Regions from separate parts of the Homo sapiens genome. Here region 2 is linked to region 1. Evidence: fine-mapped expression QTL. Tissue or cell type: nucleus accumbens. Region 1 holds a variant in brackets; the other region holds the start of a gene. All regions are shown on one strand. Distances are from middle to middle.

What was found. PIP is the estimated chance that this variant, and not a neighbour inherited with it, causes the effect.
Region 2: it holds the start of IFT27, and the variant in region 1 is fine-mapped to the expression of IFT27 in nucleus accumbens (GTEx, PIP 0.98).

What each region holds. Positions count from the first base shown.
Region 1 is chr22:36,750,027-36,758,233 of GRCh38, forward strand. All of the region lies in intron 2 of CACNG2-DT (CACNG2 divergent transcript), which reads left to right. IFT27 (intraflagellar transport 27) reads right to left here. Exons shown (of 7, transcript NM_001177701.3): 7 at 8,185-8,207. Among named protein-coding and RNA genes, the nearest start is that of IFT27, 22 kb to the right of the region's middle. The variant C/T (reference allele first, on the strand shown) is at 3,266.
Region 2 is chr22:36,771,134-36,779,276 of GRCh38, forward strand. IFT27 (intraflagellar transport 27) reads right to left here and starts at 4,986. Exons shown (of 7, transcript NM_001177701.3): 1 at 4,541-4,986. The coding sequence starts at 4,574. RefSeq lists silencers at 4,548-4,607, 4,738-4,787 and enhancers at 4,686-5,249, 5,028-5,287, 5,815-6,378.

The DNA of each region.
Region 1 (8,207 bases):
ATTTTAAGAAAACAGACAAGCTTCGCGCACAGCTGGGTTGCAGCAGTTTTTTTCTTTTCCTTCTTTTTTTTGCTTTCAGCCGTGGCAGCCTGCTCTTGATTTCTCTGGAAAGGCAGCTCCTAATTAGAATGGATCGAAGAGTCTTTGCTTCAGCTTTGTTCTCGGTCTCGACTGAATCGTTGCTTTAGGGCTTAATCTGGTGCAGCCGCTGGTTGGTTGATACCCTTGGTTCTCTGAGCTCCTCTCTGGCTCGGGCAGGCTGGCACCCAGGGGGCACCAGAGCTCTGCAGTGTCACTCTGCTCCCTCTCACTCCAGCCCTCTCTTCCTTCTCTCTTTTTCTCTCCACCTGCCTTCTCTCTCTCTAATTTCTTTTCATTAACGACCCAGAGCTGTCCAGGGTGCCAGTCCCCACTCCTAGGAGTGTAAACTGGTACAATTTATCTGGAGGGCAATTTGTCAAATGCTATTAAAAGCTTTTTTAAAAAAGTACGTAGACTTTGACTTGGAATGTCCCTTTCTAGGAATGTATGTCCTGCAGAAATAATTGGACAGGGGTCCACAGATATGTGCAAGGGGACACTGTCCTTGGCTGTTTTCCTGAGTGACCACCTGGAAACCTGGTGTCCTTCAACTGGAAATCATTATGCGTGGGTCACGTAATAAACCAACTGCAAAAGAACCTTTGGGAGTAAATCAGGGAAATTTGACTGTGGACTGAACAGTAGATGCTCCTAAAGAATTACTATTAATTTTATGTGGTGTGATAATGGCTTTGTGGTTGGTTTAGAGGCAGTGACTGGAGGGCTGGCATTTGGTTTAAACGATCGTAACCACCACCATCATGGCAGGGGAGCAGGACAGAGCAAGTGCGGCAGGATCTTGGAAGTTCCGAATCTGGCTGTCAGGTAAATGAGCGTTCATCATGCTGTTCTGTTTTTGTGTAGGTTTTACAATTCTCACGATTTAAAAAGAAATAAAAAGACCATGTAAAATCACATATATATCATATATATGATATATATGGGATATATATATCATATATGATCATATATATCATATATGATCATATATGATCATATATATGATATATATGAGATATATGAGATATATGAGATATGATATATATGAGATATATATGATATATATGAGATATACATGATACATATATGCATCATATATATGATACATATATGTATCATATATATGTATATATGATACATATATGATATATATGATACATATATGATTTATATATCATATATATGATATATATGATTTATATATGATATATATGATATATATGAGATATATGAGATATATATGATATATATGATATATATGATACATATGATATATATGATATATATGATACATATGATATATATGTTATATATGATATATATGATATATATGTTATATATGATATATATGATATGATATATATGTGATATATGATATGATATATATGTGATATATGATATGATATATATGTGATATATATATGATGTATATCACATATATATCATATATATATCATATATGTCACATATATATCATATATATCATATATATCATATATGTCATATATATCATATATATCATATATATATCATATATATCATATATATATCACATATATGATATATATCATATATATCACATATATCACATATATATGATATATATCATATATATCACATATCATATATATGATATATATATCATATATATGTGATATATATGATACATATATTTGAGACAGAGTCTCGCTCACTGTAACCTCCCCATCCTGGGTTCAAGAGATTCTCTTGCCTCAGCCTCCCGAGTAGCTGGGATTACAGCTGCCCACCATCATGCCTAGCTAATTTTTATATTTTTAGTAGAGATGGAGTTTCACCATGTTGGCCAGGCTGGTCTCGAACTCCTGACCTCAAGTGATCCGCCCACCTCAGCCTCCCAAAATGTTGAGATTACAGTCGTGAGCCACTGCACCTGGCCTAAAATCATATTTTCTGACCTGAAATAATACCCACCAGATATTGTTAAATGAAAAGAGATAAGTTCCAAATTTCATATATGGCATTATCACATTTTGTTTTTGGCTTCAAAATATGTACATATTTGTACATGTGGAGGAGAAAGGGAGGAGGTGCACATGCCTGGATGTGATGGGTGGCTATCTCTGAGTGGTAGGATTTGAATATTTTCTACTTTCTTCTTTATGCTTTTTAGTAATAGTTTCTTTTTTTTTTAAATAAACACACATTATTTCCATGCTTGTAAAAAAGCCATAGTTACTACAGATGATTTGGAAATCACCTATAAAGCACTGAACGTTTACTATATATCATGCCTTCTAAAAGTAGGTTTTATATATCTCCATCCACCCACAAAAACTGGTAAGGTTAGTGGTATTATTCCCATTTCATAAACAAGAAAATTGAGGGCCAGAGAGGATCAGTGCTTTGTCCAAGGACACACCGCTGCAATCCTAATTCCACTCGTCTGATATGAAAGCAGTGCTCTAACCTCTAAACCTTGGCTGCATCCAGAGGGTCTACAGGGGATGTCAGATGTAGCCCCTGCCCTCTAGATGGTGACCCTGTCTTTGCTCTCCTGGTCTCTTGCCCTCATTCTCTTCTCTGGTCACTCCTCTCTGCCCCCCGGAACCAGTTACATAATGGCTTCGGTGAAAATACACTTTCCCTCTCAGATCACAGGTGAAACTCGAAAGCTGCCCATTCAATATTTTCTCCTAATGAGCCTTCCTAGGCTTCTTGCCTTTTTAGAATGGAAACAAGCTCTTCGCTGCCATTCTCCTCATATTCATCAGCTCTGTTTGCTGGCAGGGCAGAAGAGTGAATGGGCATCGTATACATAAACATCATACGATCCACAGAGGGCTGGCCAGCCCGAGTTCTTAATCCTGGCTCCATCACTGACAATTTGCAACCCGGAGAAGTCACTCTCTCTGTGTTTTCTGTCTCTAAAGTAAATAAAGGATAACACACTTTAAAAATCAATTGGTGTTCTGAACAAAAAGGATGGGTGTGTGAAATGAGGACAACTCTAAGGGGCTGAAAATACATTTCCCCAAGTTTTGCAAATGCTGGAGATGGTGCAAGCCTTGTCCTACCTTACCCCTCATCCCCATCAGCTCTTGGTCTCCTTACCTCCAGGCACCTTCTCTCCCACTCCACCCTCCAATTCCTCCAGGCTGATCTTTCCAAAGCAAAAATCCAGGTGAGTCACTTCTGATAATGG[C/T]TCTCCACTCCCTTCTGGAGAAAGTCCAACTCCTCTGCTCTGGGTACAAAGAGCTCCATGTTCTTGCTTCATCCTTGTCTCTGACCTCACCTGCTGGGCACCCGTCTCTCCCCAAACCCTACAACGCACACGGTTCCCCAAGAGGGCCTCCAGCTTCATGCCTCAGGGCCTTTGCATATGCTTCCCTTTGTCTGGAATTCTCTTCCCTGGCTAACATCAGGTATTTCCCTGCAAGGTCCTGGAAACCCTTCCTAGGCAGCAGACCTGGAGCTCCTCCAGGCCACCTCCTCAGTCCTCCCTGATCTCCAATGCAGGGCAGGACCCTGGACAGAGATGAATGCTGGAATGGGAAGCACAGGTGCAAAACCAAAGGCTTCCTTCTGCATCTCCAGGATGGGCACCAATCGTCCAGTAGATGTGGCTTAGTGTAAATTTCAGTTCCCATCCTGGGATCAACTGAATCTGTGCTTCTTGCCACTCCAGCTTGGGCCAGGAAGTTTTTAGTATTCCATTTTTAAAACCACAACATTTTAGCACCAAAATGAATGCATTTTATTTATAGACATGGAAGCAGGTTGCCTCTTGCCCCCATCTCTCCTTCCAGAAGATGGTCTATCCAATGCATGTTTCCCAGATACGGAAAACTACAGGGCTCCTTTCACAGCAGAAACACCGTCCAGGGAAACCTGCCTGGCGGGCTTCTCCTACCCCATCCACATCTGAATGGATGCGGCAGGGAAGGGCCTGGGTGTCACAGAGGCAGTGCTTTGGAACTGGGCAACTGTTTCTGAACACCCACCCCAAACACGACCGGCCCCACAGTGTGTCCACCCTCCCAGTCACCTCGGCTTCCCCGCCCTCTCTGGCTGAATCAGGTGATGTCAAGAGGCAGCTCTAAAAGATGCTGCGGAATGGCCAGCCCAGAGCCATGGAAGAGGACAAGAGGCCAGGTCCCAGGCCAAACCGCTCTTACAGAAGGCAAGAATCGTGGAGGACAACAAACAGAACCTTCTTCGGAGATCCTAAAGGAGACAGAGGGGCGGTTCCTCTAACCTCCCTCAGGATTTGAAAGATCAACGCTTTTTGGGTTCCACTGGAGTTTAGAAATCAAGAGTCGGCTCCTTTTTCTCCTCTATGGATGGCAGGTGATTCTAGGGCAGGGTATGCATCTCTGGTGTCCATCCACACCTCCCACACTCATCGGACTTTACGGAGGTCCAGCGTTGGGCACTAGGAAAAGAAAGTGGTCAAGCTCCACCTCTGAGGGGTCACTGATGAGCCAATGATGCCTAGAGGGTGCCAGGTGCTATGACCTTCAAATCCTGCTTAAACATCACCTTCCAAGGAAGGTCTTCCCGACTTCCCTGTTTAATATTGCAGCCCCCACCCTGGCACGTCCTCTGCACGCCTCTGCTCTATTGCAACCTAACAGACTGCAAAATTTACCTATTCAATCAAACACCTCGCTCACCCCCCTTGAACGTAAGCACCCTGAGGGGAGGCATTTTTGTGTTACTCACTGACAAAATCCCAAGATATAGAACAGGGATTGGCACATAGTAGGTGCTCAGCAACTGCTTGATTCAAGCATTCATTCAGCAAATGCCTTCTTTCAGGAATAAAATCTGCAGACGCAGCATGCATTTTGTCAATGTTTGCTCATTGAGAGTGGGTTCTTTAGGCAAGTGAAGTAATTAATAGCCACTTGTTAGGTTCCCAAATAGTGCTGGGCACTGTGAGGATGTAAAATCTCTGATGTCCGGCTGGGCGCGGTGGCTTACGCCCGTAATCCCAGCATTTTGGGAGGCAGAGGTGGGTGGATCACCTGAGGACAGGTGTTCAAGACCAGCCTGGCCAACATAGAGAAACCCCATCCCTACTAAAAAATACAAAAATTAGCCAGGCGTGGTGGTGCATGTCTGTAATCCCAGCTACTCGGAAGGCTGAGGCAGGAGAATTGCTTGAACCTGGGAGGCAGAGGTGCGGTGAGCCAAGATTGCACCATTGCACTCCAGCCTGGGTGACAGAACGAGACTCTCAAAAAAAAAAAAAAAAAAAAGCTCTGATGTCCATCCACCTCTGGCTTCCTGTTGCCTTTGGAATAAAATAGAAATTCCTCCCACTGTGGACCCTCCCTATCTCACCTTCCTCTCCTTCCCCGGCACACACCAGGGTATGTCTTCACCGGCCTTAAGTTCCTCCATGTTCCAAGCTTGTTCGTGCCTCAGGGCCTTTGCACTTGCTGACCTTCTTGCTGAATCTCAGTGCAAATGTCCCTTCTTCTCATAGTCCTTCCTATCCCCCCAAACCAGTTACCCCACAAATCAACACCCATCTCAGCTCCGTTTTGTCATCTGCACTGCCTCAAATTATCTTGATCATTTATTTACTTGTAGAACCAGTTTATTGGAGAATCTCGAATCCATGGGCTCTGAAACAAAACCATTTTACTTTTTCCTAATTACTTTTTTCCATCAAGCTCTGCAGAGGTCCCCTTCCTGCTGGGTCTTCCTAGCAGGCTGATCCCGACACGTTTCAGACCATCCTAGTCACTGAAAGGCAGGCCAGGCCAGCTCAAAGCTTCCAAAGTGTTTGTTCAAATCTCTTTTCCAGAAGGGTGGGGAGGGGAGCAAGATCTTTTCTTCCTCTCTCTGGAGTAACTTGGAACAGAGGGGCCAGGGAGGAGCTGCGTGTCTTCTCCACAGGCCTCCTCTGGGTCTGGTTCCATCTGTTATCTCCGTGGTGGCAGGGGGTGGGGGAGGTACTTGGTTGTTTTGGGGCTGAGCCTCCTCTGTTGCTGGGGTCTCCTCAGGAAGGGGCAGCCACATTCCCCTCCAGCCCTGCCAGGGGAAGAGGCCCCCTGCCCTTTTCCAGGTAGGAAACAGCTCCCTTTGTCAGTACCTGGCTGGCTGGTCACATGACTCCACTCCATGTGGGTCCTTCTAGGAGCCTTCCGTGGAACACCCGTGCCGCCCTTCCAGACGCGGTCCTTGCTTTTCCCACTGCTGGTGCAGGCTTCTCCCCAAGCCTCTCCCCATGGAACGCCCCCCAGAGGGGACCAAACAGCTCTGGGGATGTGTGCTGAGCTTCCCAAGGGTGCCCTCGCCACCCTGTGCTGCAGCTGGCACCAGGTTTCTGCAGCTCAGAGAGCATCCGGCTGGGGGTGTGGTGCCAGCCCCCTCTTCCTGGCAGCATCCTGTCTCAGGAGGATCCTCTTGGGCCTCCTTCCCTTGGCGGGGCAAGGGGGTGATGGGGGGGGCACCCACTCACCAACACAGTGGCCACCCTCACTCCCATCTCTCTTGACCATTCCAATCTTATACAGACAGGGAGGAGTGGGGAGTAGGGGGAAGGGGAGCTCACAGCAGCAGGACCAATTCTTCCGCCTCTACTAGGGCCATGGGGAAGGGGGCTGGCCCTAAGCTTCCATGATCTCTTTAGGAGGTGGTTTATTTAGCATCTTTGTCCACAGCTGTGGCCCTGGTAACCAATTCTGGGGCAACCGGAAATGTCCCCGCTGCATCCCCTTGGTTATGGTGAGCCTTCCCTTTTGGAACATGTGACACGAAACCAGCAGCCTGGCGTTGCTAGTGCCTAGGAAAATGCCCGGCAAATGGTAGGCCCTTGGTAACTACTTGCTGAAGGCATGACGCGGCCGCTACAGTGGCTTCATGTTGAGTAACAGGAAAAGAAGGGGGACGCGAGAGCCTGACCTTGGCTGACACCGTGTGCCCAGATGCCCTGCACACCCGTTACTTCACTTCTCACAGTGACCTTGAGAGGCAGCCTAACCCCCACCTGCTCCCAGCCAAGCTCGGGAGGAGGCAGAAGAGGACGGCGGCTGGGAGCCGGGCTCTGGCGTCCACGATCGTGGCTCGGCCACCCCTTGGCTAAGTGTCTTAATTCTCTGACTCCAGCTCCTCATTTGTAAAAGGGGGATGGTAAGACTCTGCACTGTAAGGACTAAATTAGCGAATATATGACATGTGCTTAGCTCATGTAGAGACATGGCAGGTCGTAAACAGGAACCAGGGCAATTTCCATTATTGCCATTATCACTGGGACAGGCCCAGGTCCGTCCACCCCAACGCTGGCACTCTGCATGACACCCCTAGCTCCTGTGGAGGGAGAGTGATGAAGTCCTCTGGGGCACGGGGGCTGAAAGAAGCCGAGACCCCTGGGGGAAGGTGACAGTCAGGGAAGGCCTTGGATGCCAGACCTTGGCCGGCATCCTGATGTAAAAGGTGGTGAGGCACCTCTGTGGGTCTTTAATCAGGGGAGTGAGACGATGAAAGTGGTGTTTTAGAAGATTAATCTGGCAGCAGAGACAGGATGGAGAACAGTCAAGCTCAGTGCAAATAATGATGCCAGCTGCCCAGCTCCCCGAGGCAGGCAGGAGCCCTGGCCTCCCTGCGCTCAGCCTTCCCTGCAGCCATAGAGGCTGGACCTGCCACCAAGAGACAGGCACCAAGGAAGGCCGGCAGAGGGCACTGTTCTGCCAGTGACAGGAACTACCTCCAGGGAGGTCTGGCATCTGGCTAGCCAGGAGCAAGCAGCAGAACGGACTCTGTCAGAATAAGGGGGCCATCAGCCCCATCTCAGCCTTGGGACAGGTTCTGAGCTGGGCATTTCAGCTGTGGGAAACCGTAAGCAAACGCTGGGCCAGGCCCTTTCAATACCCACTGCGGGCTTCGCTTTTGCAGTGGGAGGCCCTTTAAGGAGCCGGTGCACCCTGCCGCGCAGTGGGCAGGACCACCCCCTCGAGCAAGGCGACGTCCCGAAGCACCAGCCTCACAGAAGGGAGGGCCAGGGTCCCAAGTGGGGCTCCCGGCTGCCCTGGAACCGGCAGTGACGCAGTGGCCAAAGTGTACAGTGGAACTAGGGCCACCCAGGCCAAGAGTGGAAGGAGCTGCTGCTTCGACATTTTCTCCTAATTTTATTT
Region 2 (8,143 bases), 21 kb after region 1:
TCTCAGAGATCCACACCTTGGCTCCCAGGGCCCCTCCTCCCTGCTTCTGGGCTGAGAGCCCCACATGCTTCCCTCTGCTTCCCCAGCCCAAGAGGTGGTGCTCCTTCCTGCAGTTACTACCCGTGCTGCCTCAGTTTCCCCCTTTTCCTCTTCCAGTCCTCTAGCACCAGTGTCATTCACATCCTACTGAAATCCTCACTGTTGAAATGCCGAGTAGAGTTGCTGGTTTTTGCCTGGCCCCTGACTTATGTAGTCCTTGGTACCAGGAGTGGTCTTAAAACATGGACCCTCCAGGATGGTTTGGAACTGGTTTGGTGTGTCTTGCCCTGAACACAGGGCTGGGCTCCTCCCAGTGGGAAATGGGTCCTGGTGCTCTGTGGCATGTGCTGGGGTCACGCGGCAGGTGACTGAACTCCTGAGGTGCCGGGACCAGCCGGGCAGGGCCCCTTCCTCAGGGGTCCGGATCCCAGCTCCCTGGGTCTCTTCAAGCTTCTGACAACCCCGACCTCTGCCCGCCAATCTGTGTCAACTCAATGCTGCCTTCTTGCTTCCTCAGTTCTCCAACACTTGATGAAGCAATTCCATACATTAAAATTTCTCTGCTGAAATGACGACTGCGTTTTCTGTCTTCCCGACTGTGCCTTGAACACTTCTTTTCTCTTCTTTTTTCTCCCGGCTGTTATCCACCCAGTGGGTGGCATCAACAGGTGGACCCCCATGACACAGTGCCTCCATCTTGGCAAACCTTCACACAAACCCCACTGAGGATTCCTTCATAGCCTACCCATCTCCACGGTCAGCCCTAACCCACCTTCCCACTCTCTCCCTAGTAATCCCTTACCCCAAATCTGGGCTCTGCATTCCTGTTCGCCCAGTCCCTGGAAATTCCTCAAGGCCACCTCCTTCCAGGTACCCCTAGACCAAATTCAAATCCTGTCCATTCTCTGCAAGGAAAGCTCAAAGAATACCCTTCCTGCACAGCCTCTGAAGGCCATCTCTCCCTCCTTCATCTTTATCTGTGTGGCTAACGTGGATCGTTGCTCAGTGGTAGCGCACGATGTGATGTCAGAGCAACCCTCCCAGGAGGCTCTATTACCATCTCCATGTATATCAAGAGGCAGCATATTATGGTACTTAAGGGCACAGACTCTGGAGCCAGACTCCAGCTCCATCACTTTCTAGCTGTGTGAGTTTAAATCAGTTACTTAACCTCTCTGTGCCTCAGCTGCAACATGTATAACCTAAGATAATCATAGCACCTACCCCACAGAATTGTTATGAGGATTTAATGAGTTAATATGCACAGTGCCTGGCATATATAAGTACTATTTAAGTGTTTTTTTAAAAGTAAACAAAATACAGATCAATGTCAAATGTTGTTTTCTTTCTTCTCCAGAACCAGAACAAGTAGCAGCTGTGCCTGGAGGCATTTCCCCGCATCTGGCACACAAAGGGCATTCACTTTGTGTTCGCTGTGTTAGAACGTATCACACGCATCTTAGTTCTTCCTTGAGTGCAACTGACTCATGCTTGCAGGCCCACTGCACCTTGCACGGTGACTCTGACGTAGTAGGTGCTCAGCGAGTATCTGTTCAATGCATAAACACTTGAACTGAACGTCAGGTCCTTCAATGACCAGTTATGTGAGAGAAAAAACAGAGTAACTCAGTTTAAACAGTAGGGCTGTGGGTCATGGATGGAAAAATAAAACCAATGGCATGTGTGTGGTGGGGGTGGGTGGACAGGTGTCAGAGGGGGCTGATTTCTGGGCTGAGGTCTTTTGGTCCCTGGAAACTTCCAAGAGGAAATGCTGTGGAATCCCTGAAAAGAGGCTGCAGATTGAGGCGCAGGCTGGAGTTCAGGAGCCACTAACTAGGCAGTGGCTGCACTCAGGTGAAAGAACTACCCAAGGGAGTTGGGGGTAAAGAAGGGCACAAAGAGGCCGGGCATAGTGGGTGGCTCACGCCTGTAATCCCAGCACTTTGGGAGGCTGAGGCAGGTGGATCACTTGAGGTCTGGAGTTCAAGACCAGCCTGACCAACTGGTGAAACCCCATCTCTACTAAAAATACAAAAATTAACTGGGCATGGTGGTGTGTGCCTGTATCCCCGGCTGCTCGGGAGGCTGAGGCAGGGAATCATTTAAACCCAGGAGGTGGAAGTTGCAGTGAGCTAAGGTTGTGCACCACTGCACTCCAGCCTGGGAGACAGAGTGAAATTACGCCTCAAAAAAAAAGGTCCGGGCACAGTGACTCACGCCTGTAATCCCAGCACTTTGGGAGGCCGAGGCGGGCAGATCACCTGACGTCAGGAGTTCAAGACCAGCCTGGCTAACATGGTGAAACCCAGTCTCCACTAAAAAATACAAAAAATTAGCTGGGTATGGTGGTGGGCGCCTGTAATCCCAGCTACTTGGGAGGCTGAGGCAGAAGAATCGCTTGAACCCAGGAGGTGGAGGTTGCAGTGAGCTGAGATTGTGCCATTGCACTCCAGCTTAGGCAATGAGAGTGAAACTCCGTCTCAAAAAAAAAAAAAAAAAAAATAGAAGGACACAGAGGAGCACTACTTGAGGACAGAGTAGCTTGGGCTAAAGCCCTGGAAATCAGATTGGGACCCAGGGTCTGGATCATACAGCTCTGCCACTTCCAGCTCTGTGACCCATGGCAAATGTTCTCATTTTTCTGGGCCTCAGTTGCCTCATCTGTAAATGAGGATGGCAATAATGCCAATCCCACAGGGTTGCTATGAGGATTCAATGAGACCACCTGTATTGAGGGTCTAGCAGAGCTGATGCACCCAAAGCGCCAGTAAGTTAGCTCCATGATGAAAACCGAATTTAAAAAGAACCCAGAGAGAAGCCCATTTAAAAAAAAAAGTAACTTCAGAAAATAATGTTCCCACCTTATCCATAAGGAAATTAAAGCTCAAAAAGTGCTTCGTCCAAGATGACACAGCCAATAAGAGGAACAGGCAAAATTACTTTTGTTACACAACACTGCCTCCTCTGGTGCTCTGGAAACTGGAGATTCTCCTGAGAACCATTAATTTATTTTGCTCCAGTATGATTCAGTTACTACTGTCAGTCATCTTTCTGTGTGACCCTTTTATTTTCAAATTATAAAAGCCATTAAAAATATTATCATTTATTCTCAGTCTGGAAGAGGGGAATTTTTTAAAACAGGAATCTCTTTTTCTCTATATAATTTCTCACCACTTCTTTCCTGAGCTGGCCAGGGAAGCCTGGAAAGGTCACAGGTTTCAACAGAAACACGAGTTAAGAGTTTTGGAGTTGGCCAGATCTAGGGGCTGAAATCCTGCATAGGGCCTTCACTAGGGGTTGACCTTGGCTGACATCTCTCAGTGCCTCAGTAAGATCAGAACAATCCAGTACCTGGCCGGGCGCAGTGGCTCATGCCTGTAATCCCAGCACTTTGGGAGGCCGAGGTGGGTGGATCACCTGAAGTCAGGAGTTCGAGACCAGTCTGGCCAACATGGTGAAACCCCAGCTCTATTAAAAATACAAAAAAAAATTAGCCGGGCATGGTGGCTTGCGCCTGTAATCCCAGCTACTTGGGAGGCTGAGGCAGGGGAATTGCTTGAACCAGGGAGGTGGAGGTTGCAGTGAGCCGAGATTGCGCCACTGCCCTCCAGCCTGGGCAACAGCGTGAGACTCCGTCTCAAAAAAAAAAAAAAAAAAGAAAAACAATCCAGTACCTAGCCCAGTGTGCTATGGTGAGACGATTACATGAAATATGTGTGCTTCACATGCAGTAAGCACTCAGTAACATGCATATGTGTTTCGCAGTCTATAATCCAAAATATTGTTTTTCTAAATGTGCAGACTGATACAAGGGGTACACTACAAATGTGCATGCCACATATTCACATATTCATCCATTCTAAAAGTATTTATTGAGTACCTACTATGTTCCAGGCATTGTTCTGGGTGCTTGGGATGTATCAGTCAACAAAACAAAGATTCCTGCCTTTGGGAGACTCAACATTTATGCCCTTCTTGGAGTGGGGCAGCACAGTAACTTTGGGTCTTAAAGACAACACACAAGTGCCTTTTGCAAACTCTGGTCACTACACTCAGGTCACCGTTATCAGAGGGGGTGAGGTCGGGGGAAAAATCCCATAGTAAAGACTACCAAAGTCACTGATGCCTAACTTTGGGGTACAGTATATGTTTAGCTGAAGCACTCAAGGTTTGCTTAAGCTTTGTTTGTTTTGTTTTGTTTTAACAAGTCTGCTTCTCCAGAGTTGTAACTAGTGATTTTTTAACGAGTCACCTCAACTGGTGAAGGTGGTCTCAGAGTATGTGACAGGGAGCAGGGGGAAATCCACTGGAGCTGCGAAGTGCCCTGGAAGATCATTCTTCCACGCCTAACGTAATTTACTGTATCAGTAATTGCAGTAACTCGCCTTTGGGAGAGAGAAAGGAAAAGGTAGGCAATTTAGGTGAACAAAAGCTCTGGATGAATTATGAAGGCTCTGGACTCCAGAGACCACCGTATTCAAGCGCAAGTTTTCAGACTCACCTGCCAGGATGCATTTGGCTGCCAGCTTCACCATGGTAACCAACACTCCCGCGAGCCGTACCCAGAGGACAAGAGCGGCTGCTAGAGACGCGAGTGGGTGGGCTTCGGGCCCTGGGCTGGCCTGGGACGGGAAGGTGGGGAGGGGAGGGCTGATCTCAAGGGTCAGTGGCCGCGACGGGACTGGGGATGACCGAGCCCGGCCCTTCTGGGCCGGGGGCGGATATCGGGCGCTGGGGGCGGGTGGGCAGGGGAGGGCTCCAGGTGGGCCCGGCTCGAGGCCTGACACGGCAGTCTGAAAAGGTGCAAGCGAGCGGACACGGCCTGTGCTCCCCGCCCAGCCCCTCAGCACAGCCCTACCCAGAGGGTTCAAGGAAGGACGATCCGGCTCTCCTCCGATCACAAGTACCGGGCCGGATGCACTCTCCAAGCAACCATAGCCCACCTGCCCCGCCTCCTCCTCCTCCTCGCTGACCCTCGATTGGTTGCCGCCAAAAGCTCCCACCCTCAAGGTCTCACAAAAATCCAATGGGAGTAGAGAGCTGGGATAACAGCCTTTTCTTGAGATGCAATTCGTAGAGTTATCAGTTCTTCAAGTTCAGTCTGCTTGACGAGTGGTTGTAATTGACGTCAACCAGCTTTATATCCCGCCCCCGCTGCGCCTGAGAGTCCCGAGATAAAGAAGCCTCCACGTCAAGCAGTCAGAAGCGGTGACAAGAGAAGCTTTCTGATTGGTCAGAGTCTGGCTTGACCCATCTTCGGGAGGAATAGGGATTCGCCACTCCCGCTGTCCTTCTAGAAGTGGGTTCGCCTACAATGGGGCAGGTTGGGCTCTAGGCGGTCTGGAGCGGCGCCTGCGCAGTGGGCCAGGCCGCCGCTGTAGAGGTCGTTTTGACTTGCTCTGACTTCGCGCGGTTCTCGCGGCTTCCCCGGTTCCCGGGTTCTGCACAGCGCGGCTATTAAAGTGCATGGAGAAGTGCAGTCCTTGCCCCGCATCCCGCAGGGAAATCTCATTTTAAAAGCTCAAAGATGTAATGAGCGTTAAAATCTAAAATATGAAGGTGTTTTATTAAAGTGATGTTTGTGAACAAAGGGAGAACAAATACACTTTGATGGGGCTAAGCGGTGAGACTCGGAAACTTGAAGTCGTACTTTGCTCTTAGTCCATTTACTCTCTGCAAAAGGAGAATGCATCACTAACCTCGTTTGCCCGTCACCCAGGGAGGCTCTCTGTACGCGTTTACTGGGTTGGGGGTGCCTCTTGCACGTGGTTAGGGGGTCAGAGACCTAAATCCCTGGCCTGGACAAGTCACCTCATCCCTCAGCCTCAGGATGGGCCTAGGAGAACCCGCCTTGTGGGGTGGTTGTGGAGATGGAAGGAGAGAAACGTATGAGTGCCTGGGAGATAGTAGGTGCACACGTGATTGTGGGGTGGATGGGAGAGCGGAAGCTTATCTGGACAGATTTGGTTTATCATCACTGTCACTGGTTGGCCGAATGTACCCCTTGTTCTCACTTTCTCAGGGCCCCTGGGATTCTGATGGCTGATGCTGAAGGGAAGAGCAGCCCCTCAGCAAAGGTGCCTGTGCGAAAGTTCCACATTCCCTCCAGACACCTAGAACATTCCACCTCTCCGCCACTCTGCATCTCAGAGTGGCTGCCAGCCTTGTGTGGGGGAATAAACACACACACTCTATGAATGGCTGATGGTTTCAGCCCCGAATCCAGAGTAAATGCAAGTTGTCTGAGATGTTCTTTCCTTGGGATTCATTCCTGGCGCTACGGTAAAGGTCTGTTTCTCCTTCATTTCTCGTAACTGCTTTTCTTCTTTGGTGACATCACGTGAGTCTGTCTCAGACATCCAGGTCTGAGTGAGCAAAAAGCCTCTTTCTGGTCTTCTGCCTTCCTCTTGCCGGCTCCCCTCCAGGCCAACCTGTTCACCATGAGTGACCCTGTTAATCCCTTAAAGGACCCCATTTGGTGAGTCACCCTCCCGAGGCAGCTCCACGTAGCTAAGACACAGACACACATCAGGGCAGCCTCCGAAGCCTTGGTTCCTTCATTTTGCGAGGTGGGTAATGACAGAGCCGGAGCATAGCCATCTTGGACAAGCACTGCCATTTTAAAGTTCTCCTTGATCAAAAACGGCCTAAATTCAACCCAAAGGGCATCAGCCTAATGGCTAATGTCAGAATGACCATAAACCACAAGTGACATCTCCAATCAGAAACATTCCAACCCTAAGATAAACCCACCCCCCGACCAGAGACATGCAGCCCCAAGATAACCTCCCCTCTGGTCAGAGAGATGTCAGCCCCAACATAACCCACCCTCAGACCGGAGACATTCCAACCCCACAGTAAACTTCTCCTCCACACAGAAACATTCCAAGCCTGTGGTAAGCTCTCTTGCCCTAAACCCTTAAATACTCTTAGTCTGTAAGAGAGAGCACTCCTGACTGAAATTGGCCAGAAGCCCCTCTCAGGTTTATGCTCCAAAATAAACCTGTATTTAACTGTTGAGCCACTTTTCATGTTTCTTGCCTCTTTCTTTAACTCTTGCAGGTAATAATCACACCTCCCTCCCAGGGCTGTTCTCTGTTCCCCACCCACTGTCTCCCTTTTGTTGCTGCTACTCTGTGTGATTTTAGTCAGCATTATCATAAGAGCATTGTAGAACTTTCTAGAGAGATGGTAAACACTTGTATGGTGAATTCTGTCCCCCTTCACCTCATGGACCCAAGGGCCTTCTATACATTTCTGTGACTGAAGGTAAGCTGAATGAGAGTCACTAGGTTTAAGGTGGTCAGAGAATTTTGGAGCCATGGGGGCTCCTGAGCAATTCGAGTTATCCCATTTCTGAGCAGCTCTAATAGTCACAGCTGGCCTATGTTGACCACAGACTTAAGGCTGGCCTTGTTCTAAGTGATTTTAGGGATTAATTAGTTTAATTTCACATTTACATTTGATATTCACAATAACCATGTATCATCCCCATTTGATAGATGGGGAAACTAGGGCCCAAATGAGATTAAGTGAAACACCGAAGGTCACCTAGCTAGTGAGTAGCAGAGATGGATTTGAACTCCTTCTCACCCTTCCTAAAGAGCAAATACTTATTGAGTTCCTTGCCGTAATAACTTGCGTTGATTGAGCATTAGATGTGAGGCATCTGCTAAGCACTTCACATCCTCTCTCCTGTATGAAACCATGACCCTGGGAAGTGGAAACTCTCATTCATTTGAAGAAAGGAAAGAGCCACAGAGAGGCCAAGGTCATGCAACAAGTCAGCCAGATCCAGAACCAGCCTCAGATCTCTTGACTCTGGGGACCAATGTTTGTTTCTTTGTTTTCCCCCATTATCCAGCATAGTCTCTCCATTTTCATTAATTAGCTTTTCTTGAGTGCCTACCATCAGCCAGGCATGGTGTTGGTTGCTGGATCCACTGAAGGGTGGGGATGACAGAGCCCCAGGCTTTACCTCTGGGTGAGATATCACGGCAATGTGGGAATACGGGCCCAGGGTTGCACACTTTTCTAGAGGAGCCAGGAATCTGGATTTTTGTGTGAAATCCCCTGACCTGTTAGTGTTGGCAATGAACTTAAA